Linked DNA regions of Homo sapiens. The protein of the gene in region 4 purifies or fractionates together with the protein of the main gene of each other region. This does not show direct contact. Each region holds a gene or a part of one and is shown on either strand. Other genes may lie near its edges.

Evidence for each region.
Region 1: the proteins of CBFB (region 4) and KCTD13 purify together in Homo sapiens (co-immunoprecipitation; one large-scale study listed by IntAct). This does not show direct contact.
Region 2: the proteins of CBFB (region 4) and WRAP73 purify together in Homo sapiens (co-immunoprecipitation; one large-scale study listed by IntAct). This does not show direct contact.
Region 3: the proteins of CBFB (region 4) and LRRC32 purify together in Homo sapiens (affinity purification with mass spectrometry; one large-scale study listed by BioGRID and IntAct). This does not show direct contact.
Region 5: the proteins of CBFB (region 4) and BCL11B purify together in Homo sapiens (affinity purification with mass spectrometry, with the first as the bait; one large-scale study listed by BioGRID). This does not show direct contact.
Region 6: the proteins of CBFB (region 4) and ETS1 purify together in Homo sapiens (affinity purification with mass spectrometry, with the first as the bait; one large-scale study listed by BioGRID). This does not show direct contact.
Region 7: the proteins of CBFB (region 4) and SMPDL3B purify together in Homo sapiens (affinity purification with mass spectrometry; one large-scale study listed by BioGRID and IntAct). This does not show direct contact.

The regions. Positions count from the first base shown.
Region 1 is NC_000016.10:29,919,173-29,923,226, forward strand, and holds part of KCTD13 (BTB/POZ domain-containing adapter for CUL3-mediated RhoA degradation protein 1), read right to left. Parts: coding exon 4,018-4,054; coding exon of another isoform or gene 3,964-4,017; intron 2,790-3,963; coding exon of another isoform or gene 2,682-2,789; exon of another isoform or gene 359-2,681; intron 1-358. UniProt on the Homo sapiens protein: Substrate-specific adapter of a BCR (BTB-CUL3-RBX1) E3 ubiquitin-protein ligase complex required for synaptic transmission.
Region 2 is NC_000001.11:3,647,120-3,651,638, reverse strand, and holds the start of WRAP73 (WD repeat-containing protein WRAP73), read left to right. Parts: upstream 1-1,535; 5' UTR 1,536-1,639; coding exon 1,640-1,708; intron 1,709-4,078; coding exon 4,079-4,231; intron 4,232-4,519.
Region 3 is NC_000011.10:76,664,119-76,668,172, reverse strand, and holds part of LRRC32 (transforming growth factor beta activator LRRC32 isoform a precursor), read left to right. Parts: intron 1-2,214; 5' UTR 2,215-2,218; coding exon 2,219-2,302; exon of another isoform or gene 2,303-2,307; coding exon of another isoform or gene 2,308-2,325; intron 2,326-4,054.
Region 4 is NC_000016.10:67,095,060-67,098,818, forward strand, and holds part of CBFB (core-binding factor subunit beta), read left to right. Parts: intron 1-3,650; coding exon 3,651-3,719; 3' UTR 3,720-3,759. UniProt on the Homo sapiens protein: Forms the heterodimeric complex core-binding factor (CBF) with RUNX family proteins (RUNX1, RUNX2, and RUNX3).
Region 5 is NC_000014.9:99,254,911-99,258,964, reverse strand, and holds part of BCL11B (B-cell lymphoma/leukemia 11B), read left to right. Parts: intron 1-1,125; coding exon 1,126-1,494; intron 1,495-4,054. UniProt on the Homo sapiens protein: Key regulator of both differentiation and survival of T-lymphocytes during thymocyte development in mammals.
Region 6 is NC_000011.10:128,577,263-128,581,316, reverse strand, and holds part of ETS1 (protein C-ets-1), read left to right. Parts: intron 1-4,054. UniProt on the Homo sapiens protein: Transcription factor. Directly controls the expression of cytokine and chemokine genes in a wide variety of different cellular contexts. May control the differentiation, survival and proliferation of lymphoid cells.
Region 7 is NC_000001.11:27,951,617-27,955,670, reverse strand, and holds part of SMPDL3B (acid sphingomyelinase-like phosphodiesterase 3b isoform 1 precursor), read right to left. Parts: intron 2,457-4,054; coding exon 2,313-2,456; intron 1,318-2,312; coding exon 1,145-1,317; intron 1-1,144. UniProt on the Homo sapiens protein: Lipid-modulating phosphodiesterase. Active on the surface of macrophages and dendritic cells and strongly influences macrophage lipid composition and membrane fluidity. Acts as a negative regulator of Toll-like receptor signaling.

The DNA.
Region 1 (4,054 bases), about 37 Mb from region 4:
GAGTAAACAACCAGGCAAAGTTGGAAAGCGGGTCATTGTGCAGGACAACTGGCAGTCTCTTTAACAAGCCAGCATCGTGAGGAAAAAGGGACCCCTTGGATTGTAATAAAGTAATGCTTATGGTATTATTTGGCTTATGTAATAAAGTAATGCTTATGGTATTATTTGGCTTATGTAATAAAGTAATGCTTATGGTATTATTATGGTAACTGTATTAAGGCAGTTACCTATCAATGATAATCCTTACCTGAACCAGTAATTACATTCGTGCCATAGAATACCTATAACTCTTATCATCTCTTCAACATTATTACATGAAACTATTTGTAAAGTCATGCTTTCCATTGTTAACTTGCAGATAACCAGATGCAACGTGAAGATCTAGACTGGACCCTGGTTTGATGAACCAGCTGTAAAAACACATTTCTGGAACAACTGGAGAAACCGGAGTATGCCCTGGACTGGATATTAAATAAAAATTTATTGACATGTAAAGATGGCAATTATTAACAACAACAAAAAACAGATTATAAAACATTTCATACAACACGATTGTATTTTGGCAAGCAAACACACACACACACACATACTCTCACACAGGAAACGACCTGGAAGAATATTTGGTGCTTTTATTTTTTAGATTATTTGTGTTTCTGAAATTTCTACAATTAATAAATACTGCTTTAAAATAATCAATGGTTATTTGTAATTTTAAAAAATCAAGGATTTCCATTCAATGCTAGATGCCACAAGTGGGTGACATTCTAAGAAAAAATATTGGCGATATCTACATTGACTAGAAATTTTTATCTAGAACAGACTTTTTCAACTGAAGTTCCTCATCTGAATCTCAAAAACCAGCAAATATGGCCAGGCACGGTGGCTCACGCCTGAATCCCAGCACTTTGGGAGGCCAAGGCAGGTGGATCACTTGAGGTCAGGAGTTCGAGACCAGCCTGGCCAACATGGCGAAACTCCATCTCTACCAAAAATATGATAAAATTAGCCAGGCATTGTAGTGCACACATGTAGTCCCAGCTACCCGGAAAGCTGAGGCAGGAGAATCACTTGAACCCCAGAGAGGGAGGTTGCAGTGAGGTAAGATCGCGCCACTGCACTCCACCCTGGGCGACAGAGCAAGACTCCACCTCAAAAAAAGAAAAACAAAAACAAAAACAAAAAAACAGCAAATAATTTGAGTGTTTTCTGAACTTTGCTGAGAACAGTAGGTAAATAGTCCCATGCTACAGGCTTAGAGGTTAATTTGTTATGTATATAATCCATGCCCTAGGGAATGTATAAGACATACCCATATGCAGTAGGGCTTAATTATCCCTAGGAACTAAACTAAAATATGCAAGGATCTCCTGCTAAGCAACATGAAAAAGAAAAAAGCAGAAAATCTGGTAAAGAACATGAATAAGCAATTCACAGGAAGGGAAACAAAAAAACACTAGTGAGTATATGAAAAGATGCTGAACCTCATTAGTAATCAGAGGCATGCAAATGAAAATGAGATCACGCTACACTCATTGGATTGGCAAAATTAGAAAGCTGGATGATGCCATGTCTTGATGAGGACATGCAGAAATGTAATCTCTTATGCACTGCTCATTATGAGGATAAAGTATTATAACCATTCGGGAGAGCAATTAGATGATATTTACTAAAACGCCGTTTGCAGGTGTCCTGTTATCCAGCAATTCTACTCCCAGCTACAATGACAGGAGACTGGCACAGAATCAGAAGGGAGCATGTACCAGGATGCTCATGGTGACACGGTTTGTAGGGGCAGGAACTGGAAGGCAATCTAGGTCTCCAACCTCAGGGGAATGTATGAACAAAATATGGTGAATGAACACCGCAGATTTCTCTGCAGCTGTTAGAAGCAAAGAACTAGATGTACTTGGAGCAGCATGAATAGATCTTGAAAAAAAGTGCTGAATTAAAAAAACACAATGCAACAGAAACTGATTCACAGCTTCAATGCCATTTATGGACATTTAAAATGCACACATATGCAGAACAATGCTTTAGCTTTTCGAGCATATGTATCAAAACATTAAAATTGGATGGGTGCCCCTGGGAAAAAGGAAAGTAGGCAGGGGACTGGGAATGAAGGGAAAGAAATAAAACTAAAAGACAAAAGGTTTGCATAGACCAATATTGATGAAGTGCCACACACTGAGGAGTGTGCTGAGCTGCGTGAGGTGCAGAGGGAACCTGGAAAGGAGAGAGCAGGAGTATAGAAAAGTACAGCTCTTGGGAGGCTGAAGGTCAGATAGTCAGGTAGCCTGGGGTCAAATCTGAGCTCTGCTGCTTCCCAGCTCTTTCACCTTGGACACGTCTTCCAAGCTCCCTCGCGTTTCTTTTTACGTCAAACAAGGATACAAGATGTATACACAAGCAGATAGCAGAATTGCTCCTGACACACAGTGGGTACATGATGACATTAGTAAATTTAAAACTACAGGCCGGGTTTTAAAACTTTAGTTTTAACATTAGTAAATTTAAAACTACAGGCCGGTGGCTCACGCCTGTAATCCCAGCACTTTGGGGGGCCAAGGCGGATGGATCACGTGAGGTCAGGAGTTCGACACCAGCCTAACAAACATGGTGAAACCCCGTCTCTACTAAAAATACAAAAAAGTAGCAAAGCGTGGTAGCAGGCGCCTGTAATTCTAGCTACTTGGGAGGCTGAGGCAGGAGAATTGCTTGAACCTGGGAGGCAGAGGTTGCGGTGAGCCAAGATCACGCCATTGCACTCCAGCCTGGGCGACAGAGAGACTCTGTCTCAAAACAAAACAAAAATGCTACAGAGCAGGAATGCACTTCCAAGATCTAGTACAATGAATGTTTCTCAAATGCAAGTGGTAATTTATTAATGGGTCATGAAATAAGTAATGGGTCCCAAACAGCATTAAAAAGAAAGATTATCAGAGTACATTTCACTAAAAGTATCTTTTTATAGAACTGTTATTTCAGTTATATATAATGAGTACTAAAATGCATTTTTTCCCTATGGCAGGCAATCAAAAAGTTTGAAAAACATGGATATTGTCCAAAGGAGTTCTACACCTTTGGGCTTCAAGAACCAGTAAGTATTCCCTGAGACAAAAGTTGTTCAGGGAGGCAACCTTTTAATCTATAAAGGGCATTCAAAAAGAAACTTTTATAATCTTCTCTTACTATTGTAACATAAAAGAAAGGACATTTTTAACATTGTAAAAATAGAACAGAATAACAGGCTTTATGTAAAACTCACTACTTTGTACTTATTTTTCTCCCTTCCCTGTCTTTCGGAACCCGAGGACAGAATCCCAGAGGTAGGAATGGACTCACTGAAGGTCACTGAGTCAGCTGTGACAGAGGTGACACAGAACCCTTATGTCCTGGCTTCACTTTCCAAGCTCTGCTCCTCAGAACCCTAAGGGGTCCACAAAAGTGGAGCCTAGCAGGTGGGGTCTCTAGAATCCCCAACCCTGTTTTACTGGGAGTGGCCCTGCTTCTGTGAGATTTCATTTGAATAAAGAATTTCACTGTTTAAAAAAAAAAAAGAATTAGAAAGCTCCTGGGGGGCGGAAGCCATGGGAGAATGCTGCCTCCCAGGATAGGGCCAGATCGCAGAGGTTATTATATTTCAATTTAAATTTAGATGTTTTTCCCTAGTGACATGAGGGAGCTATTTAGGATTTCTAAGCAAGAGAGAGAATAGATCGGGGTTGTGCTGAAAGATAATTACTCAGGTGCGAGTGTAACAGCTGGACTGGCTGCATAGGAACAGTGGGAAGTAGAGAGCAGCTATTTAACCATTGCAAAGGTCCTGGCATGAGGCTGGGGTGGGGGTGCTGCCTGAGGCGGCAGGGATGCAGAAGATGGCACCTCAAATTCTCTGGGGTTATGGCCAGCCAAAGCCAGGCTCTCCAAGCCATACCCCATATCTCCTTTTTTCTGCTCTAATACCTGCTTGGGCAGCTCTCCCAGGAACATAGGCATGGGGACTCCGAAGGCCCTCACCTGCAGCGCCAGCTGGCAGTCCTCAATCAGGCCCTGC
Region 2 (4,519 bases), on a different chromosome or scaffold from region 4:
CCTGCGCTAGGTCAGGCCGAAGCTCTCTACCGGCCAGCGACACCCGCCGCCCCGCCCGCCTGCTCCTCCTAGGCCATCGGGGCTTCCAGGGCCCTCGACCACGTACACCAGGCCCTGGCTAGGGGACCCGACATGCTGGGCGAGTTCCGAGCGGCTCTCAGTGGCGGCGCTGCTTATGGTCTGATGCTTATGGGGCCCGTGATCTGGCTCCGAACCGATGTCCTCTGCCCATGGTGACCCCCACGTCTTGGAAAGTCGCGTCAGTGAAGCCCGTGGCTTCGCGAGCGAGCCGGGCTGGCGCAGACTGGGTTCTCTGGCCGCAGCGGGTCCGCGCCTGACGGGGAGGGTCCGGCTGACTCGCACATCTTCATGGCTCACCCACTGTTTGCTGGGCGCACGGGGTGGGGACCCAAAGACGAATCCCATGCAGAGGTTTGGGTCTAGTTTTGGCAACAGAAAAGGCCGGCACCGCCGGAGTAGGACGCGCGCGCACCACCATCCATTCGGCCGGGGAGGTTGGGGCGTCCGCGGGGAGCAGACCCGAGGCTGGGCGCCCGGAGGTACGAGCAGGACCCTGGCCGGCTCTCAGCTCCCAGAACCCAGGGCCAGGCGGGGATGTCAGGGTCTGCGCGATCTGGGGGGCCCTAGAGGCGCCGGCGGGGCCTGGCGCGGACTACTAGCGGCCTGCGGGAGCCAGGGGTGGAGGGGGCCGCTGTCTAGGGAAGAGGACCGGGGTCCGGAGTGGGGGTGAGAACGAGGCACGCCCCTGAGCCTGCGAAACCTGCGGACCGAGCGCCCGCGCAGGAGCTCGCTCCCTCTGGGCCCCCAGGTCCCAGACCCGCACGATTCTTCGCCCGGTGCCAGCCCAGATGCGCGCGGGTGATGAACGGGCGGTGGCCGCGATCCACGCGCTCGCTCTGCCCAGTCAGCGGCAAATTCGTTCTCTCCTTGATCTCAGTGGCACTGGAGCGTGAGGCAAGGGCCAGGCGGCAGGTAGAGGGGTCGGACTCAGCAAAAGCAAACAAAACCCCAAGCAAACGAAATAAATACTTATACATTACATACACGATATAATATATGTGCGACAGACACCGTATTACTTATTAAAGATATATTTGTAGGTAAACATATATTTACATGTAAACATACATTTACATATAAATATAAATATATATATATGCATGTGTACACACACGCAGACACACAGGTCGCTCAATTAAATTTGAATTTCAGACTAGCGAGTAATTTTTCCGTATTAGCATGTCCCGTGCAATATTTGGGAACATACTTATAACTAGATTTGTTGTGAATCTGAAATTCAAATTTTACTGTGCTTTCTACATTTTTATCAGCAGCCCTAGCTGGAGGTGCTCAAAGGCCTCCCGGCCTTTGAGGTAAGGTTCTCGGGTCGGAAATCCCTGGTCGGAAGAAACGTGGGCGTTTCCTTTAAAGCCCTGCGGCACAAGAACTACAAGCCCCACAATGCCGCGCGGAAGCCGGCGGCGCTGATAGGCTGCAGTTCACTTCCGCCTTCTGACTTCCGGCCTCGGAGGCCGGCGTCGGCTGTTGCAGCCTGCTGCGCGCCCAGGGGTCCCGCGGGTTTTCGGGCGCAGGGTGGCGCCCGCGGCAGGCGGCGGCCATGAACTTCTCCGAGGTATTCAAGCTCTCCAGCTTACTCTGCAAGTTCTCCCCGGACGGCAAGTACCTGGTGAGCGGCGGGGACCTGGGCCACGGGCAGGACATCCTCGGTGCCAGCGTCCCCGGCGGGCAGGGCCGGGGGCGGCCGCGTGGGTGGAGGCAGCTTGGGGATCCTGCAGGTGCGGTGCCCGGACAGGTGCGGGGCCCGGGCAGGTACCCGGGGCAGGTGCAGTGTCTGAGCAAGTGCCCCAGACAGGTGCGGGACCCAGGAAGATACCCTAGACAGGTGGAGGGCCCGGGGAGGTGCCCCAAGCAGGTGCGGGGCCCAGGCAGGTACCCCAAGCAGGTGCGGGGCCCAGGCAGGTACCCCAAGCAGATATGGGGGCCGGACAGGTGCAGGACCCCGGCAGGTGCCCGGGCAGGTGCGGGACCCAGGAAGATACCGTAGACAGGTGGGGGGTCTGGGGAGGTGCCCTTGGAAAGGTGGGTATCGGCAGTGCCGACTGCACACAGGTGAGGGTATAGGAGATGTCGGCTCTTTGTTGTTACTTTGTCACAAAAGGCAAATTGATGATTCTGTTGCCTGTAAACTGGTAAGTGGTGTGGCTACTTTGTCATCTCTACTTCTCCTCTAATTCTCTTCTCCTCTACCACATGCCGAATAAATGATTTAAATACTAGTATTCTATCCCCAGGTAAGGAAGTAGTTGTCCTCATGGCTGGGATTTGAGGTCTTCGTTCCATGGGTGGCAGAAGGGTGCTTAAATCACAGAGCTATAACTTTAAGCTTCAAAACATATAGTGTATGTACCTGGATGCCTAGTAGTGTATATCCTCAGAAGAGAGGGATAACCCGGATGCCTAGTATGTATGTCCTCAGAAGAGGGGGACAATTGGCATTGGAAAGCCACTAAGAAGAAACATGCCTCGTAAAAAGTGGGCTTCGTTTTCCTTATCCACCACCTGTACTAACTGACTGATGTATCATGATGCTTTTTCAGGTTTTGCCACTCCTGACATTCCTGTGCTCTGTCTAGCTTTTGAGAGTTTAACTCTCAAATTACGTTTTTTACCTCTTCAGGGAGGTTTTATTCCAAATCACATAAAATAGCATCAGCTACAAAACAGAAAACCTCATTAGTTTAAATGGCATCTCAGCCTTGGTATATTTTCAATGTGCCCCCCTCCTCAATTAAATGAGAGGTTTGTTTTTTGTTTTTACCATTTATGAAAATTTCAGTGAATTATAAGGAGAAAGATTACATCTGCTTGCTTAACTTGGGTGTTTTTTTCCAGCTTGTACACTCTGGTCAAAATACCCTGAAACACTTGGTAATGATCTGTTACTGGAATCATCTTCTTGAAAGCCCTGAGGACTGGGGAGAGCAGGTCCATGTTTCTAGTTTTCATATCTTGCAGTAGAGTTTATGTGGTTCCTCAAGGTGTTGGTAAAAATATTCCATTTCATAAGGAATTCACTGTAACTGATCACAGTTTTCAAAGCTACAGTGTGAGAAAGTAAGTGCTGTGGTAGCTCCTTGTTCCAATCTGCCGTCACCCGCCTGTCTCTCTTTTCTCCCACGGAAAACTAACGTGGCTTTCTTTTTTGATATCGGTTCATAAAACACAAACTACTTTGACCTTGATAAGTAAAACTAACGAAGCAGTTAATATTTAAACATCAGTTCTTGATCTTGAAACTGTAGTAAAATATACATTCAGCAGGTGAGTACTCAGGCGTTATTTTTACTTGAAATTGTTTGCTTGGATAGGGACATAATGAACAAATATGGACAAGAAGAAACTATCTTTAAGAAAATAGTACTAACACTTAAACATTTCCCGTTTCGTGTTAGGAATAGGTTAATGGAGATAAATGAGCATTTGCGAAGCATCTTTATGTGTGCAGAAGTGAAAGCCTGTCTTTTGATCTTCTGTTGTTTTGGCTCTGAGTTCGGCACTGCATAAGAAGATTGATGCATTCCTTGCCATTTTCGTTGTCATCTGTGAAGCCTCAATTCTTACCCTTTATAAATTTGAGGAAATTGTCCAAAAGTGTTTATAAAACTAGCAGAGGATTTTGGTTATTAGTTCACAGAAGAGCTTTCTCCCAATGCTACTTCCCATTTAAGTTTAGTTTTTAACATACAGATAAGAAGGGACTTAAAAATGTCTTAAAGCTTTAAGTAGCGAGTTAAAACATACTTTTATACTTTACAATAGAGTATAGCAATATTAAAACCTGGCTTGTATATTTCAACATTACCCTTGTATGAACTGAACTGATCTTTAGGGGCTGGGGATGTCACTGGTGATCTAGACATGAAACCTCTGGCAGGAGAGAAGGCCACAGTCACTGAAGGCCAGGGCAGTAGCATTCCGAAGGCCCCCCTCTTTTGGAGTGGAGAATGTCAGGTGCTTGCTTTCTCATATTTTTTAGGCTTCCTGTGTCCAGTACCGGTTAGTGGTCCGGGATGTGAACACCCTTCAGATCCTTCAGCTGTACACGTGCCTAGACCAGATCCAGCACATCGAGTGGTCGGCAGACTCGCTCTTCATCCTGTGCGCCATGTACAAGCGAGGGCTGGTGCAGGTGTGTGCTGCCGTGTCGCTTAGAATCTGGACACCTTCTGAGGGCCCCTGGGAAGGAGGGGTTTTGTTCTGTGCCTTTCTAGTTTGAAAAAAAAGTCCGTGCAGCTCAAAGCCAGTTTTCTTTTGAAATTATAACGTTCTCTAAAGTTTAAGAACATTTAAACTAAGGAAACTCCAACGTAGTCTTAATTTCTAAGCAATATAGTTGAGAAACGGAGGTGTTGACAGCAATCTAGCCACGCGGATGTGGTGTGTTTCAGGAAGTCCTAAGAAGTCGTGTTTTCTTCTG
Region 3 (4,054 bases), on a different chromosome or scaffold from region 4:
TCAGTAACGACCCCATGTCACCGAGACTCCTAGTGTCGGTTTTCTGTCCGCTGCTGACCTGTTGTGTGCTGTGAGATGCATCTTAAAGGATGGTGAGCCCCTCTCTAGGGGCACTTCCCATGGGAGGGGGTGGGGCCCAGTAGCCACGGAGGGCTTGGTGCTGTGCTCACTGGAAGCTCAGGGGCTCTGGGAGGACTGGAGGACATAGTCCAGACTTGGGGAACCAAAGAAGGCCTCTTGGCCCATCTAAGCTGGGACCCCAAGGATGAGGAGGTCTTTAGCAGAAGAGGAGAGGGGAGAAAGTGAAGGTTTGGGGCAGTGAAAATCTGCTCAGGGAACTGAAGGAAATATGAGGTGTCCAGAACCCAGAATGTGAGAGGGGACACCGGGGAAGCAGGCTGGAGAGCAGAGCTGGCCAGGCAGGGCATGCTCCCCAGTGGCCTGGAAGGCCCTGCCGGAGGGGTTTTCACTCAGTTCTGAATATGCTAACTTTCTAACGGGCGGTGGCGTTCTGCTTTTTAAACAGCAGAACAAAGTTTCCTGTGAAAGCACAACCTGTAATGCAGGTGAGAGCAGAGCAGCTGCAGGGGCAGCGCCTGTGGCCCTGAGGGGAGCCAGGGAATAGGGTTTACCGGGTCCGGCTGTGGTCTGTGCGCCTTCAAGAGAGATGGGATTCAGAGCAGCCATCTTCGTCCATAGCTCATCACTAGCGGGTTCCAACAGTCAAAGACACTGCCCTCAAATGCCCTGTGAATGCCTTTTCTCCTGCAGCATCCTTCAGAATCGCGGTTCAGCACTCACTGAGGGAGCACCCACTGTGGGAGGCCTGGGAGTGTGGATTTGAAGGGCACAGACCCAGGAGCCAGACTCACCTGGGCCGGTGGCTTGTTCACCGTGTGACCTCGGGCATAGTACCTAAGCTCTCTGAGACTTCTTTTTCCCTTCTGTAAAATGATGATGGAACCAAGTCATTGAATTTTTGTGAGGATGGAATGAGTTCATGCCTAGAAAGTGCTGAGGAGAGGGCCTACTGCATAATGGAGGCTCTGTAGGTGGCATCTCGTTTGATTCTCAACAAAAACTTGGCATGGCTGCCATTAACCTCAAATGAGGAGACTGAGGCTCAGAGAGGTGAAGCGACTTGTAAGATCACACAGCAGAAAGGTAGAGGAGACAAGAGGGAGCAGTCAGATGTGGGTGACTGTGCGCCTGGTGCTCTTGGAAGGCTTTCTGTGTCCCTCTTTAAGACTCTCTGTCTGTATCACCGTCACTGTCACTTCTTTTTCGTGTTCATTTGTTTTTTGAGTTCCCAGTTCCCAGCACAGAGCCAGACATGAGGAGGTATTCAGTAAAGGTGTGAATGAATGAATGAAATTCATGGGTGGATTTGTACATCCCTAGCACTTGGCTGATGTCCTTAGTGAGGGAGTGAGTGAGCCTCCAGCAGCACTGGGATTTAACCCTGCTAAGGGCCTGTGCGGTCCCCTTAGCCCCACCCCTGGCTGCTCTTAGAGGGAAGGGCTGGCCCAGGAGGCCGGAGTGTGGCTTCAGTGAAAGTACAGGGCCTGCCAGGCTGCTCCTGGGGAAGTCCGCAGAGCAGTGCCGGGGCAGCCAGGCCTCCTGTGGGACTTCCTGCCAAGGCCCGGGCCCAGCCCTTGAACAATGGCAAGGGCTCGAGAATCAGAGAATCAAAAGGAAAAGGGCAAAATAAAGGTGGGGGAGTGGGCAGAAAACGAGGAATTGCATGTGGGGACTGAAGAGCTGGTACGGAGGACTTGTGTGGCCTGGGTGGAAATGTAGTCAGAGGCCCACCCTCCAAACCCCCTCTACATCTCCATGCCCCCAGTCCCTGGCCCTGAGCATGGCCTAGGGTAACCCTTAGGGTCTGTCAGCCTTCTGTGCATCCCCTCCAGGCTGTCTTCCGCCAGGTGGGGTCTCTTGAAAACCCCCGTCTGACCAAGTCACCTGCCGCTTAAAACTCTTGCTTCCCCTGGGTAATGGGCGGCTCCTTGGCCTGGGTGAGAGGCCTACTATGATGGGCTGCAGGCCCATTTCCCACCTGGCTCTCTGCCCTGCTCAAAGCATCTTTATTCCAGCTCCAGCCGTGCTCTGGGGTTCCCTGAGGGCAGGCACAGAATGGGTGGGAGTGGGGGCTGGCAGTGGGAAGGAGCCAGTGGGCTTACAGTGTTCCCCTTTCCTCTCCGCCTTACACAGAGCCATGAGACCCCAGATCCTGCTGCTCCTGGCCCTGCTGACCCTAGGCCTGGCTGCACAACACCAAGACAAAGTGCCCTGTAAGATGGTAAGATGCTCTGCCCAGACAGGGTGAGGACCACCCCCACCTCCCTGCCCTAGGGTGTGCTAGTGCCCCAGCCCCAGAAGCCAGAAGTTAGAAGAGTCAGGAGAGGAAAGGGAATGTACCTTGCATTTAATGAGCACCTACTAGAATGTTTAAACACCTTATTTACCCACAGTCCTGCCAGGTAAGCACCATTATTCTCATTTTGCAAAGGAGGAGACTGAGGCTTGGAGAGATTGGGCCTTGTCCAAGGTCATTCAGCTGGGAACAGTGAGGCTGATATTACACTGTATTCCCCCAAGCTGTCCCCACAGAGCAGTAGGCCCAGCTAGGGGATCTAGAATATATATATATGTGTGGGGAATTTGGGGTAGGCCAGCTGGGAGGGGCTCCTCTGTGCTCATCCCTCTTGGAGACAAATCCCCTTCCAAGCTGGGCTCCTTGACTTGGGACTGCCCGCTGGAGTGCCTCTCACTTCTTAGTGCCCAGATCAAATGCTGCCATCTCCAGGAAGCCTCCCCAGCCCCTCCCAGGCTGGCCTAGTCTGATCACACCTTCCTCTGGGTTCCTGCGGTCCCCAGGCTTCCCCCTATCTCAATACTGAGAAGACTGAACATGTGGGGTGGTTGGTGAAAGGGTCCAAGCCTGTCTCACCTGCCAGACCATGAACTTCCCTAGGGCAAGGACCAAGTTTGATTTGCTTCTATTCCTTTTTCCTGTCCCAAGCCAGGGAAACTAGCCCTAAAGTTCTTGTGACTCTATGAGATACAGGGCAAAGAGAACACCTAGATCCACTTGTAAGGCCGGGCAGTCACTGAGGCCAGAGCCTGGCTGGGGAAAGGGCAGGGCCTCCGGAAGCCCCTCTTGGACCTGAGACTCGAAGAAGCTTATGACACAGAACCGGCAGCTGCTTCAGGAGGCAGGAAGTGCAGGCAGCTGCCTGCCCGCAGCCCTTCCCTGGGGGTGCAATGTCTCCTGTTGCCACCACCTTTCTTGCTCTTCAGAGCCCTTCTAAGATTCCCGGAGCCCAGAATTGCGGGCAGAGAAGGCCTCAGATGTCACCAAATACAAACGCACATTCTACCTCAGGGAGACGAGGCTCAGAGGGGAAAGTCCTTGACTACCCAACAGGCAGAGGGGAAGCGGGTGAATTTTGGAGTCTGGGGAAATGAGATAAGAGATAGGAAAGCACTTTCTGAACCAGCATGGGAATAATACACACGGGAAGTAAGGAGAAGATGTGTGACCCACCAGGGACCTACAGGATTCGAACCCAGCTGCCTTTGCCACTGTTCACTGCCTGGTGCCTCTCCCTACTCTGCTTTCCTCCCATGATCAGGTGGTGAAATGGAGTTGGATGGCAAGTCTTTGCTTCTGAAAAGGAAGCTGGGCAGTGGGTGTCCTGATAGCCCAGGACAGTGGGTGGGAGCTCTAAACTCTGGTCAAGGGCCAATTCCTCCAATTCCCTCCGACGGTAAGTCAGGCAATGCTGGGAGCTCAGAGCTGAAGGAGGCATGAAGACCCTGGAAGTGGAGCTCTGAGCACCGCCCTGGACTTCAAGCTTCTTCCTGGACTGGACTGGAGATCTGGGCATCCCAGTGCAGCCCTGCCCACCATCAGGCCCCCAGGCTTCTAGAGCAGGGGTCTTGGGCCCCTGAATGGAAAGCCAGTCTTGGGCTGTGGGCTTGGCAAACTTTGTGTCCTGGATCAAGTCTCAGGGGCTGGTGCCCCAGGGAGCCTTTGCCTATCCAGAGG
Region 4 (3,759 bases):
GTAAAAAAAGTTAGTCGGGCATGGAAGCGCATGCCGGCTACTCAGGAGGCTGAGGCACGAGAATTGTTTGAACCTGGGAGGCTGAAGTTACAGTGAGTTGAGATCAGGCCATTGCACTCCAGCCTAGGCAACAAGAGCAAAAGTGTGTCTCAAAAAAAAAAAAAAAAAAAAAAAAAAGGCTGGGCACGGTGGCTCACGCCTGTAATCCCAACACTTTGGGAGGCTGAGGTGGGCTGATCACGAGGTCAGGAGATTGAGACCATCCTGGCTAACATGGTGAAACCCCGTCTGTACTAAAATACAAAAAATTAGCCAGGTGTGGTGCTGCGTGCCTGTAGTTCCAGCTACTTGGGAGGCTGAGGCAGGGGAATTGCTTGAACCCAGGAGGCAGAGGTTGCAGTGCACCAAGATTGCGTCACTGCGCTCCAGCCTGGCGACAGAGCAAAGCTTTTTGCTCAAACAACTGGTAAAATGGAGTTGCAGTTATCTAACATAGGAAAACTGTTGCTACTTGGGAAGGTGAGGCAGGAGGATCACTTGAGCCCAGGAGTTTGAGGCTGTAGGGTGCTATGTTTGTGCCTGTGAATAGCCACTGCACTCCAGCCTGGGCAACACAGCAAGACCTCATCTGTTTTTTTTTTTTTTTTTTGGAGACAGAGTTTCCCTCTTGTTGCCCAGGCTGGAGTGCAACAGCACAATCTCGGCTCACCACAACCTCTGCCTTTCTGGTTCACGCGATCCTCCTGCCTCAGACTCCCGAGTATCTGGGAATACAGGCGCATGCCACCACACCCAGCTAATTTTTGTATTTTAGTAGAGATGGGGTTTCGCCATGTTGGCCAGGCTGATCTCGAACTCCTGACCTCAGGTGATCCGCCCACCTTGGCCTCCCAAAGTGCTGGGATTACTGGCATTGAGCCATTGCACCCAGCCGACCTCATCTCTTTAAAACAAAATGAGTTAATTCAGCTGGGCATGGTGGCTCACGCCTGTAATCCCAGCACTTTGGGGAAGCTGAGGTGGGTGGATCACTTGAGCCCAGGAGTTCGAGACCAGCCTGGCCAACATGGCAAAACCCCATCACTACTAAAAATATTTTAAAATTAGCCAGGTGTCGTGGTGCATGCCTGTTCTCCCAGCTGCTTGGGAGGCGGGGCAGGAGAATGACTTGAACCTGGGAGGCGGAGGTTGCAGTGAGCTGAGATTGCGCTACTGTACTCCAGCCTGGAAAACAGAGCAAGACTCTGTCTCAAAAAAAAAAAATAATAATAATTAGTTAATTCATGGAAAGTACTTAGTACCACATTCTGGATACAAACAGATATTTGTGCTTGGCCAACATTTGGAGGCAGTAAAGAAAGCTTATAGAATAACCACATATTAGAACTTGTGAAGGAGAAAATATACATATATATATATGTATATATATAGTCTCTCTATTAAGTAATTTACCATAAGGGGTTTAAATAGGAATGTTGACTCCAAAGTGAATCTTGAAATCTTGGTGTTTATAATTGTCAAGCCTCTTTTTTTAAAATAGATTTGGTCAACAGGAAGTATTTTTTTCTAATTTTTATTTTATAGACCTAGTCAAGCTTCTTAATTGTTAAATATTGTTATAACAATACATCTGGGCCGGGCGCGGTGGCTCACTCCTGTAATCCCAGCACTTTGGGAGGCCAGGGCGGGTGAATCACGAGGTCAGGAGATTGAGACCATCCTGGCTAACACAAAGAAACCCCATCTCTACTAAAAATACAAAAAATTAGCTGGGTGTGGTGGTGGGCGCCTGTAGTCCCAGCTACTCGGGAGGCGGAGCTTGCGGTGAGCCAAGATCGCGCCACTGCACTCCAGCGACTCCGTCTCAAAAAAAAAAAAAAAAAATACATCTGAGTCGTACATGGTGGCTCATGCCTGTAATTCCAGCACTTTGGGAGGCCAAGACAGGCAGATGGCTTGAGCCCAGGAGTTCCAAGACCAGCCCTGGCAACATGGTGAAACCCTGTCTCTACAAAGAATACAAAAATTAGCCAGGTGTGGTGGCGTGTGCCTGTGGTCACAGCTACTCGAGGCTTAGGTGGGAGAATCGCTTGAGCCGGGGAGGCAGAGGTTGCAGTCAGCAGAGATTGTGCCACTGCACTCCAGTCTTGGTGACAGAGTGAGACCCTGTCTCAAAAAAACAACAAACAAAAAAATAGATCTGGGGCCGGGCGTGGTGGCTCACGCCTGTAATCCCAGCACTTTGGGAGGCCGAGGCGGGCAGATCACCTGAGGTCGGAAGTTCGAGACCAGCCTAACCAACGTGGAGAAACCCCATCTCTACTAAAACTACAAAATTAGCCGGGCGTGGTGGCACATGCCTGTAATCCCAGCTACTGAGGAGGTTGAGGCAAGAGAATTGCTTGAACCCGGGAGTTGGAGGTTGCAGTGAGCTAAGATTGCGCCACTGCACTCCAGCCTGGGCAACAAGAGTGAAACTCCGTCTCAAAAAAAAAAAAAAAAAAGCATCTGGGAATATAAGTGCACCCAGGACTCTAATTTTATATTTCTATTTTTAACATATGAGACAATACTTTATCCATAATAAAGTGCTACATTTTTCAGTCATATAATTAGTAGAACATATACTTCTCTGTGATTCAGTTTTTTTATTTGTAAAATAGAGATAAATAATAGCACTTATGTCATAGGTTGTTGGGAGGGATTAAATTAGTTCTAGCCAGGTCCTATGGCATGTGCCCATAGTTCTAGTTACTTGGGAGGCCGAGTGAGGCAGGAGGATTGGTTTAGTCCAGGAATTTGAGGCTGTAATGTGCTATGTTCGTACCTGTGAATAGCCGCTGCAGTCCAGCCCGGGCAACATAGCAAGACCCCATCTCTCTAAAAAATTATTTAATTCATGGAAAGTACTTACAACAGTGCCCGCAGACAGCTGATACTCAATAAATGTCAGCTATTACTAAAAGGAAGAGTTTGCTTCTAAGGCACTTGGCTAATGTGTTAAAGTTAAATCCTCTTTTTCCAAAACTGTAAATATAGATTTGTTGTGGGGTTTTTTGTTTGTTTGTTTGTTTGTTTGTTTGTTTGTTTTTTGAGATGGAATCTCACTTATGTCGTCCAGGCTGGGGTGCAGTGGTGCGATCTCAGCTCACGGCAACCTCCACCTCCCAGGTTCAAGGGATTCTCATGCCTCAGCCTCCCAAGTTGCTGGGATTACAGGTGTTGCCACCATGCCTGGCTAATTTTTTTGTATTTTTCATAGAGACAGGGTTTCACCATTTTGGCCAGGCTGGTCTCGAACTCCTGACCTCAAATGATCTGCCCGTCTCAGCCTCCCAAAGTTCTGGGATTACAGGCATGAGCCACTGCGCCCAGTGCTAGATTTGTTGTTATTTCTTATGTAGTACATATTTATGGTGATTTTCTTTTGAATAAAAATGATTTTTATTCTTGATTTTTAAGGAAACTTTAGTAAAATATGTCAGACATAATTTTAATTGGTTTTTTTTTGCCTGTTACATGTGACTATATTGGCTGAAAACTTTTTAGTTATGAAGTTTTTCTGTGTGCTACTGTCTTGTATTTTGTATATCTAGTATTTTGATTGTCAAAACACTTTTTGACCCCAAATTATGATTTTGTCATTGCAGGCAAGAAGACAACAAGACCCTAGTCCTGGTTCCAATTTAGGTGGTGGTGATGACCTCAAACTTCGTTAATTAATAGCACAGCAGATGTGTGCTGCCCATCTTTACATAC
Region 5 (4,054 bases), on a different chromosome or scaffold from region 4:
TTTTTGAGGCATTTATTAGCTTCCAAATATTTGGGTCCTAGGCTCCCTACTCTCTCCCCCACAAAAAAAACCCAAGAGAAATCTATCGGCTGCTAAAGAAATATAAAAACATACAGTCCATTGAAAGTGTGGTTTGATATCTTCCAAGAAATGCTTTTGGAGTCTGGAGAATTTTCTTTCTTTCATTTTTCTGGGAGTGAAAATAAAATCAACAAACAGAAAAGGACAGTGGGGAGTTGATGAGTGTGGGGGAAATCTACAGAGAAATGGAAGTCTGACCGGGCCTCGGGTGCTTGGCAGGAGAGCCTGCTTCCCGACTCTGCAAGCCGGTTCCAGCCTCCCTTCTGCTGCAGTGCTTTCTCCTAAGATATTTTTTTGGAACCTGACACTCACTTGTTGCTTTCTGAGCATGTGGGCTTCCTTCTCTCCTAAGGACGGGCCCTTAGACGCCCATCTGGGTTTCTGTTTTCTAGTTTGGTGTGTGGCCAGGTCCCAGGTAGAGGAATGTGAGTGGGATTCGCATGAATGGGGAGGGCATGAATGAAGGTGTAAGGGATGGGAGGGGTGGGGCTCCAGCCCAGCAGGGGGAAAGGGCTCCAGCTCACTGGTTCTCGGCCCTGGCTGCCCATTGGAATCACCTGGGGAGTCTGAAAGACTATTCCGATGTTTGTTCCCAGTGTAACTGGTCAGGGGTGCTGCCTGCGCCTTGGGATTTTTCAAACCCTCCAGGTGATTCTCAGATACTGGAAACTTTGAGAGACACATCACGACCTCATGCTGTCAGCAGCCAGGGTGTGTGTGTATGCACGTGTGTCCGTGTGTGTTCTTATACTACGTTGGGGAGAAACTGGCAGAAAATAAACTAGAATGCAGTAAGATCGGCACTACTTACGTGGCAATGCCCAGGGGGCACGACGTTGCTCCTAGAGCCTCAGTGTGCCCATCTGTCCTGTGGGGGATGCTCACCAGCCCCCAACCCCGGGGAGGACCTGGTGAGCTCTGGCAGCCAGCAGCAGAGGGGGCTGCTTCTTGGCGGGGAAGGGGTGGACCGGAAGTTGGGTGCTGTGACCGCCTAAGCCCATCTCTATCTTCTCTGCCCCTTCCCTTTCTTCTTTCTGTCTCCAGCAGAGGCTGACCATGTGGAGGCCGCCATCCTCGAAGAAGACGAGGGTCTGGAGATAGAGGAGCCAAGTGGCCTGGGGCTGATGGTGGGTGGCCCCGACCCTGACCTGCTCACCTGTGGCCAGTGTCAAATGAACTTCCCCTTGGGGGACATCCTGGTTTTTATAGAGCACAAAAGGAAGCAGTGTGGCGGCAGCTTGGGTGCCTGCTATGACAAGGCCCTGGACAAGGACAGCCCGCCACCCTCCTCACGCTCCGAGCTCAGGAAAGTGTCCGAGCCGGTGGAGATCGGGATCCAAGTCACCCCCGACGAAGATGACCACCTGCTCTCACCCACGAAAGGCATCTGTCCCAAGCAGGAGAACATTGCAGGTATGGGATGCTGCGCTTGCCTGGTTGCTGTGGAAGCCACCTCCTGGGTCCCATGCCCTCTGCCTGAGTGTGCTGGTGCAGGGGAAGGCCCAGGGGCTTCCAGGATGGCCTCTGGGCCACCAGCCGGGGCTCCCCCTTTCTGAGGGTCCACCATCCAGGTGACCTTCAGGAGGAGACAGGCCTGGGGCTCGGGGAGGCCCAAATGGCTGATGGCTGCTTGCTTTTGGTGAGGGGACTCTGTCTCGGGGGCTAATCCAGAGGTGGTCAGAAGCACAGAATGAAAATTTGGAAGTCTGGTTGGCCCTCTCTTTGCTACTGATCTTGGCTTAGTCCCTGATTTTGAAGCCAGACAGTTTTGGGTTAGAGTTTGTCTTCACAACTTGGACATGTTAGTTTGCCCATCTGTGAAATGGAGCTAAGGAAACCCACCTCATTAGGGTTGCTGTGAGGACGAATGAGCTGTTGCATGCGGCATGACCTGGTAGGCACTTAGGAATGGGAGTGCTCATTCTCTCCCCTCTCCTTTCTCTCTGGACTCAGTTTCCCATGTGTGAAATGAGGAGTTAGGCCCCCTGATCTCAGAGGTTGCTTCTGACATTGCCCGACCCCAGGGGCCGGTCCCAGGCAGGGGTGTGGGAACTTGTTGGAGCACTGTGCCCGTTGGGGGAGGTTGGATATGCCCTTTGACATGCTCACTCATTTGACCACTGGGACAGCTGGTTTTACCACCTTGAGAACAGGTCTAGGGCCCCTCTGTCCCCAGGCGTGGGTCTGCTCACCACAGTGAGTTAGCATGAAGTCCCTCCCTCTTGGCCAGCACCATGGCATGCTGGAGCCTCTTCCAGGGAGCCGCTGCTCTCTGTGCAAACCAGAGTGTTTGTTTCTGGTTTATACTTCTGAGCCCAGGAGGCCTGGGGGAGAAAGGAGGGCCTGGCCAGCCTGGGTTCCCTAAAAAGCAGCAGCCTGTGCTGGAGCAAGATGGGCATCAGAGTTTATGCAGACGAGTGTTCAAATCCTGATGGTTGACTTTGGATTAGCCACTTCATGGGTCCGAGCCTCAGTTTCCCCATCTGTCAACAGAAAGTGATAATAGCAGCAGGCCTGGTGTGAGGATTAGATGAGCAGGGGCTCTTAATCAGTCTTTTGCCCGTGGCACTTCTCTCTCAGAGGTTTCGTCTGGCTCTGCGGTGTGCAAGTAGGTGGCTGGCTGGGGAAACGAGTGCATTGATCGTTACCATGCTTCCATCATGGAAGGTAGCATGGGCTCTGGAGGGACTCAGGCTTTCGATGCTTCTAGGAGGGTGAGATGGATGGGCATGGGCACTGATCAAGACCCATCACCCAGGACGCAGTCAGGGTAATGCTGCAAGCCTGTCTCCCCCACGTCTCCAAAGCTTTGTGATGCTGAGCCTCACTTTGCTCACCTGCACAAGGGGCTTAGTGAGCCCTCTCTTTTGTGGGGAGACTGTGGTGGTATGCAGAGTCCTGCAGCCTCATGCCAGGCACTGGGGAGACATCAGTGAACCAGATTGGCCTCTGGGCCTTGCCTTCTGATGGGTGCCCTAGCATGAAGTGTCTCATACACTTTCCAAGATGCAAGGGGCTTTGAGACATGTCCAGGCCACCGGCATGTAAACACTGGCTTCTCAGAGTGCTATGTGCACCTGAGCAGCGTCTCTTCACCGGGCTGAGCCATCAGGCGAGAGAGGTGCTGGGTCCCTTTTGTCTTTGTTGGTCCACATTCCAGGGACAGTTTTACCTGTAGTATCGACGCCTGGCCTCAGTGCACATCGATCTTTCAGGGGTGGCCTTGCTAGGGAGACTCGGGCCGCCTATTTATGTTTCCATGGAAAGATTTGCTGCTTTTGCCAAAAACATCCAAATCCTCATTTCACATTGAAGGCATTTCCCAATGAGAGGCTGCAGATCACTGTGGCAGGTTTGTTTAAGAAAGTGACTAAATGTGATTTCATAAAAGGCAAAGCTAATCTCCAAGGCAGCTTTGTCCTCATCCTTCCACCCCCTGGCCCCCCTGTTTTTTTTTTTTTTTTTTTTTTTTTTTTTTCCAGGTTGTGATACTGCAGCAGCCTACAGTATCTTTATTTTATGTGTGACGAAAGATATTCTTGGCCTTTCTGTTCAGCAACAGGACGAATGGATTTCTTCATTCTAGAAGAAATATGTAAAATAATCCCTTAGAAGTCTAAAGAGATATGTTTGTTCAAAGCATTTAAAATGTTATTTTAATCAAAGGCACAAAACAGTCTACATGCTGTGTCAGCTGAAGACGACCATCCCATTTTAACAGCACACATGCGCCTGCCTTCTAGTTCCCATTCCTCCTATTTCCCTGCCTACTTGGGCAGCAACTTTTCTTTTTTTATTTAATAAAAAGGAAAGATTAAAGAAGAAAACTTCAGTGGCTCAAATGTATAAAGTAATTTAATATGGTGGGAGCATTAATTATTTTAGCTTAATTGAATTCCGAGGACTGCAGTAGTTGCATTTTTGTAGACAAGCCCTGTTTATTATTTCTCTGTGTAGATTAACAGTAAAGGAA
Region 6 (4,054 bases), on a different chromosome or scaffold from region 4:
AGAAAGTGTAGATTGTTAGTATTTCAAAGGTTTCAGAGACTAGAATTGGCATTTTCTTAGTTAGATTCCTAGACCTAAGAGTCGGCAGGTTTTAATGTATTTCCTTGATGCCTAGGAGAAGCAAGACCTTTCTGTCCATTGTTGACAATGCCATTTCAGTACTGTATGGTGAGGGATTTGTTTCCACTGAGAAGGAAATGCATAAAATAATCTATGAAGCATTCCTTATTTCTTAACTGCTATGGTATACCAGAGTAAAACATCTTCTAGTCTTTCTCTTTTTCAGGAGATAGTAGCGAGTTACTCCTCAAGGAAGGGTAAAACAATATACTCTTTAAAATTATAATGACATGAGTTCATTTTAATATTCTAAGAAGGATTCGTTGAGCTATGTCAATTCATACAGGACTTGAAAGTGTTATGCTTAATTAGGAGATGGGTTTATTTTTAGAGAAATAGGAGATGGATATGACTCATTTCCATTTAAGCAAGGGTTGGCGGAATAATTATAGTGAAGTTGTGAAGAAACAAAGACTGAGATGTTAATTGTACTGTGAGTTGCTGCTCTGTAACCTTAGTGAAAGAATAAATGCACTTAGCTTAAGACACAGAAGACAGTAGCCCATAATTTGGAACACAGCCTTCATTTGTCAGTGCTGGCTACTTAAAATAAGAAGGAATATTCACTACTACTGTAATGTTGGATTACTTAGTCAAGCAAATGAGGTTCTTGTAGATTTAGTAGTGAGACAGAAAAACCATCTTCAGTTCTTCTAATCCTTTTTCTTTTCTATGCGTTGTAACCACAAAGTTTCCATGGGGAGTAAGGAATGTTCAGCTTTCCTAGATATGATGGATCTTAAACCTGAGTTCTTAGAGAATTGGATTTGGGAGCTTTTGTTACAGTGACAGGTCAGGGAAGACATCTACTCAAATGATTTGGGAAATACACGTGGGCTACTCATGAGAATCAGAAAGAACACACTGAAGGAGTATAGATGAACTCATCAATCTGGTACATCCTATAGTTTAGAGAAAAGTGCCATCTTGCTTGTAGTTAACTCTTGAGAAGCCTAACCTCAGGGTCACACAAGGACACACTTCATCACAGGGATTTTTTTTTTTTTTTTTTTTTTTTTTAATGTCCAAACGATAACTTACTCTCTTGGATAAGCTCAGGACGCACAAGGATTGTACACACCAACTCTGTTTCAAGTACTTTAGGTACTTTCCCTCATTTAGTAAACAGACACTTGTTGCATGGCTACTATGTGTCATCTGAAAAGACACCATCCTTACTCTCAAGTTACTCATCATTCAGGAGCAGAAACAGGCATAGATACAGGAAGTGTCATGAACTTTGTTACACCGTTACAGTAAATCCCATGGAGGGGCATCAAGGAGGTCCATGCAATTGCCAAAGAGGGTAGGGGGGAGGGGAAAGCTTCCTGAAAGAGGAGATACTCTGAGTCTTCAAAAATACATTTCTATAGTATTCAGAAAAAAGAAATTAAAACTCTATACATTGTAGATTAAAGATGTTGCCTTGGTAGCCCAGGTGTTGCCTTTAGTTTGGCAAAAGTGCTGTTGTTTGGAGCAAGTTTTTTTTACATGGTTAGTTGTTTTGGACACCAAATTCTTTTTTTTTTTTTTTTTTCAATGGAGTTTTGCTCTTGTTGCCGGGTGGGAGTGTAATGGCGAGATCTCGGCTCACTGCAACCTCTGCCTCCCAGGCTCAAGCGATTCTTCTGCCTCAGCCTCCCAAGTAGCTGGGATTACAGGCATGTACCACCACACCTGGCTAATTTTGTATTTTTAGTAGAGATGGAATTTCACTATGTTTGTCAGGCTGCTCTTGAACTCCTGACCTTGGGTGGTCCGCCTGCCTCGGCCTCTCAAATTGCTGGAATTACAGGCGTGAGCCACCGAGCCCAGCCCTGGAAGCCAAATTCTTTGTCTCCTGTATTCCAAGCCAAAAGGACATGCTTTTTGTTTGAATTGATAGGAATCCTAAATTATTGACATTAGGATAAATGCTCATTGGAAATCTATTCAAATTTTGCATTGTTTTCAAAGAGGAAAGGCTGGGGTGAGGGGTGGTGGGGAGAAATCTACATTTTCTGCCACAGCTTTATTGTGCTTTTGAATTCCCCATGTGCCATCTTCATACCCAGGATATGTTTTAACCATAATTCATTGCCTATGAAGCTAACATGAAGACGAGAGGGCAAGTTGAAATTTAAAACATGATGCCTTTGTCAGTGGGAGTCTAATTTTGGCTGGTCTATTATAGAATGCAGTTAGTCAATATGTATTCAAATATGGAATGCATATTTTCTTTGTCCCCAAAATGCTCTTTTTCGGCATTTAGTGGGAATGTAAAATATTTTAGGAATTTTTATAATGACAAAGAATTGGGGACAAATTAATTATACGATAATAAGAGGCTCTTTAAAAGTATGATATATACATACAATAGAATACTTGGCAGTCATCATCTTTAGGATAGACAGCCACATTTATCAACAGAGAAAAATGTCCATAGCATTATGTTAAATGTCAGTGAACAAAGCAGGTTACAAAAGAACATGTGGAGAATAATCTCATGAAGGTAAAATTGTAATCACGTGTGTGTGTGTGACATCTATGTTCGTTTAGATAGATTAAAAAATACCCAGAAGAATATTGAACAAATTATTAGTATAATTATCTCTACATGGTGAGGTTTCAGGTGATTCTAATATCCATCTGTTACTTTTTTGTATTTTAATTTTTGCGGTAACATTGTATTAGTTTGGCAAAAACTGCTGATTTCAAAAGAATTTTGTTTTCAAAAGAAAAAAATTAAAGTGTAATTTACTTGGTATTTACCTAAAAGCGTAGTTTTTCTTTTAGGAATACATAACCCCAAATGAAAAAGGCTTAACTGATGTCAAAGTTATCTAGAAATACAGCCAAGCAGGGTCAGAGTTGATGTGAACTGGATTCAGCCTTGATTCAAGCCTGGTCTCTTTGGGATTTCTTGTTCTTCTGCTGCCTTGGCCTGAACAGTCCCTCTCCTCCCTAATTTTTCCTTTATTCTGTGTCTCTCAACCTGCCCTGCCCTGCCCTGGCAAGCTTTGGGTGAAAGGAAGTGAGAGCCTACAGGTCCTGGCCGGGTTGCCAGTTTGGGGAGGGTGGGAAGTTGGAGAAGTGGTCACTCGCTCTATGAAGAATAGAACTCTCTAGAATCAAGCAGAACCATAGTTTTAAAGTGATTTTTTGGACATGAGACACCCACATAAGCCAAAGTGTTGACTTTTTTGTCTTCTCCATCTCATGCTTGTTTCTGTCCTCGCCATCCAGGGTGATGAGGGTGCTTAGAGAAGCATCTTCTCTCTCTCTCTCTTTTTTTTTTTTTTGGCTTTTTGGCAGAAGAGAATTCCCTCCCACGTGACAACTGCTTGAACATCAGCTGCACCAATTTTTTTCTTAGCATTGCACACGTTTATTGCATAAATGCAAAGCAACTGTGGCATCTGAAGATTTACTCCCCAGCTAAGCAGCATCCATGAGACCTGTTTGGGTGCAAAAATGATTTGGACGCTGGGTAACAAAGGTCTAGAGAAGCATCTTCTCTAAGCACAGGAGGAGGCTGAAGACCAGGAGTCTGGTCTCAGCTTGGCCAATTAGCAGCATCGCCTTAGTCTTTCTCCTCATTTGTAAAAAGAGGGGTTTACACTGAAAAAGTGTGTACAAGTTTTCTAACTTACACTATTGTATTTAACAGTTATCTATGTGCCAGCTACTTTCCAATACTGGCCTAGGATCCAGGGATCTGGAGTGAATAAATGAACTAAATCTCCCCCTTGGGGAGCTTAAATTCTAACAGAGTGGACTTTGGAGAAGACAACGAACAAACACCTAGGTGTCAGAGTACGGAGAAAGGCGCTGCTATTCATATGCGGTGATGGGAAAAGCCTTCTTAGATGAGGGGGCATTAAATAGCTATGTGAATAGAAGGAAACGGTTTTCCCTTAGAAATGGATCATGAAACAAACTGATTATTTCAAGT
Region 7 (4,054 bases), on a different chromosome or scaffold from region 4:
GTTCCCAGAAGAGGCTCACAGATGCCCTCTCCAGACCCTCATTTCTACTTCTCAAAACCTGCAAATTGCCCCAAAGGCAGGTAGACAGGCCCAAATGTATCTCCTCCCTGAAGGCCTCCCGGATTCCATGTCCCACTTTCTCCCTGTGCCCTGCAATGAATGCACCACATACCTTCCCACCTCTGTGCCTGCCACCTGGAGTACCCTTCTCCTTTTCACTTCTGTAAATCCTCCCCACACTTCAAAGAGCACCTCCCCCATGAAGCTTTCCTAATCCTTCAAAGACTACTCTTCTCTTGGAGAGCTTGAACACTGCAACGAAACCATTCTTGCGTGGTTGTGTGATATGCTACACGGTAATGTGCATTCGTTTCTTACATTCCTTGAGTCACTCATCTGACAACACCTGGGCACTTGGCCACCATGGCAGGAGTTAGAACAGGGGACAGAGTTAAATGTATGAGTTTTGGAGTCAGACTGCAGCTTAGACACCAGCTGTGTATCACCTCTCTGAGCTGCTGTTTTCTCATCTGGAATAGCACATAGCTGGTGGGGTTTTGAGAATGATGGACTCGCTACTGAGCCGGGGTTTCCATAGTTCTGCTACCTGAGATCATCCGCATAATGTCCTAAACAACGTGCCCAATGTTGGCATAGTGCATGCTCATGGGCACCAGCTGTGAGATCCTCTTGGGATGGGCTGGTCAGTGCAAGGACTTGGGCAAATGAGACACTGAGCCAGTCCTTGAGGAGCTGTCAGGCCAGCAGGCTAGCTGGACACACTCAAGGGCAGGGCATCCCCTGGAGATCTGGCACACAGTACTGGCTGCAGCTGTGCATGTGGTGGGAGTGGAAAGAGCACTGGACTTGGAGTCTGGTCTTCTAGTCTGGGCTTCGTCACTTATTATGTGACTTGGGACCGTCACCACTCTTTATGAGCCTCAGGGTCCTCATCTGCAGTGGGCTCCAGATCCCAGCACACAGGGCTGTGGTGAGGATGGAGGAAGCCCTCTGCTGGTGCCGGGCTGATAAAGGACCCTCTGGGATATGGGCATCTTTGGGTGGGTGGGTGAGTTTGTGCCAAGCGGGAGACTTGTGCAGGAAATAACCCCAGATGAGAAAAGAAAGAAGCAGGGCCTCTTACCATGTCCCCAGCTTTGGATGCATCGGTCAGCACATCTTCCAGCCACTGGAACTGCTGGCCAGGGTCCGCCATGTCTGCTGTCAGCGCATTGCTGGTATAGTACAGATTGGTGTTGAGGACCACAATTCGCCCAGCCCCGCTGGGACCCGGCAGCTTCTCACAGTAGAAGGCACCTGTCACAGCCAGGGACAATATGAAGGAGGCCCCCACCTCTGGCCAGACAGGCTTCCGCCCCTTCCACCTCAATGTCCCACTTTCTTTTTCCGTTGCATCTTCCCCTCCCATCTTTCCCATGGGTGGGACATCAATCTGGAAGATCAGAGGCTCTGGAGCCAGGCGGCCTGGATTCAATTCCTGGCTCTGGAACTCATTCGCTGTGCAACTTGGGAAAGTAACTTCACCTCTCTATACTTCGGTTTCCTTATCTGCATAGTGAGACTAACAGTGATGTGTGTTTGCCCATCCAGATCCACTGTCGACCCTTCACTGCTCAGCTGTCTTTTCCAAGAGCTGATCTATGTGGACTAAATCAACAGGCTTCTGTGGCACAGGCTTCTGGTCGGCTTTAACCACTGGGGAGTCCCAACAGCAGGAGACCGAGGAAAGGGAAGAGTAGGGTCAAAGTCACCTTGGGCTGGCTGTGTTTCTGAACCAGTCATTCTCAACCAGGTGCTTCTGGCCCAAGAGAACACTGGGCAATGTCTGAGACATTTTTGGTTGTCACAGCTGGGGGTGTTCCTGAGGGTATCACTCTAGTGAGTGTTTGCAACATTCTGCAACACACGTGGCAGTTGTCTGCGACAGAGTTATCCAGCCCATGGTGTCAGTGGTGGCAAGGTTCAAACCTGCTGGAAATGAAACCACTCCTTCCAAGGGTTGTTGTGAAGTGTCTAGGACCAGGCTGAGAGGGCAGTGCCTCGCACACAGTAAAGGCTCAATAAATATGAACTTAGGAGCATCATCAGTGTCGTGGGGTTTAGAGGAAGGGCTTTGGAGTTAATTCTGGAGTCTGCTCCCAAGACTGCCTTTTCTAAGCTGTATGACCCTGGCTTCCTTATCTGTAAATTGGGGATAAAATCAGTACTTATTCTAAGAGGTTGTTGTGAAGACGAAGATCAGACCCTGGCATACAGTAAGTGCTCTTGATAGGAGCAGGTGGTGTTGGTACCTTTTTTGAAGAGAGCGATGGACTCATTACTAAGCCAGGGTTTCCATAGTTCTGCTATCTGATTGTAGATGTTGTTACTTCCAGCTGGGAACTGGTTTTTGGGGTGAAAATCATGATTTCCCAAAGCAGCATAGACTTTAGTATCTAGGAAGAAAGGGTGAAATATCAAAATATATATGCAAAAGCACTCGGGGGAGTTAATCATTTTCTGTTGGCCACTGGCCATCAGAGCTCAAGGGGAAGAGCGATAGCACAGATGAGGAAAAGACACAGATAGGAAACCCACATTTGATAGAATCTGACTGAACTTTGCTTAGACTTTGGAGGGAAGAGCAGTGGGTTCTTTCATCACAGTCCCTAAACCCATTCCCAGCAGAAAGTTTCCTAGTTAGAAGGAAAGCAGCAGATGATGAGAAGGGGAAAACTAGGTCTAAATGAGTCCGATCGTCATCAGCCACTTGGTAATTTAGTGTTCCCAATTCCTGTTGATTCCAGATCATCTTACTGTTAGGGAAAGGGTCTGCGTCACTCTGGGAGGCCTTAGGAGTTTCACTCATCCATGCAGTCAGCAAGTATCTTATTGAGCACCAACTATGAGCCAATGCATAGAACTGGAAACCAGGCTTCCAGCCCCAGAGGTCCTGCAGTTCAATAGGGTTGACAGGTATTGAGTAGAGGTGTAAGGGATGTCACAGAAAGGGAATGGCCACTTGCTATGGGAGTAATAACAGAGGGTAGGAGTGGGTTTGGGGAGGCCTCCCTGAGGAAGGGGCCTGTGAATGAGGCCTGGAGGTGTAGGGGAACCCATTAGACTCATTTCCTCCACATGAACAGCCTCATTTCTGTTTTTATTTTATGCTCAGTGTCTGGCACCTAATCGGTGCTCAATAAATATTTGACAATCAACAAAAATAACTCTTGGACTCAGAACAGGGCTGGGCCCTTATATGAGCTTAGTCTATCACAGGGAGTGACCTGGAACAAATGAGGGAGGCTGGAGCCTCCCATTCCAGTTGGGAAATATCTCTAACACACCCTTTGCCCTGTACAGCCGACAAGACCTGGAAATGCTGAGAACTCTGCCAAAGTAGGAGGTTGTCAAAACGCATCACTGTAACTGCCTAGAAAAACCTCACCTCTCTAAAGTAAATGCCAGCAGCCATTAAGAATCCATTTAAGAAAAAAAAAAAATCCCTATGAGAAGGGAGGGACTCACTCCTGTGTTTTCACTGCTTCTGTGTGCCCAGCTCCTTGCAAACATAAGCTCCATGAGGGTGCGACCTGGTGTCTTGTTCATTGCCATGTCTTCTACTCCTGGAATGGTGTCTCACCCATAGTGGATGCTCAATAACTATTTGTTGATTGACTAAATGAGTGAATGAATTACCTTATTTAATCCTCATAACAACCCTGTGGACAGGTACCATTATTTTCCTTTTTCACAGGGAGCAGACTGAGTCTTTATGAGATTACCCAGCTAAACCATACCAGAGCTAGAATTGGGCCCTGCATGACAGGGTCTTCCTTTGCCTCCCAGGCTGCAGTGCAGTGGCACGATCATAGCTCATTGTAACCTCAAATTCCTGGGGTCAAGTGATCCTCCTGTCTCAGCCTCCCAAGTAGCTAAGAGTATAGATACACAGCACCACACACAGCTAATTTTTTTTTATTTTTTGTAGAAGCAGGGTCTTGCTATGTTGCCCAGGCCAGTCTCAAACTCCTGACCTCAAGCGATCCTCCAG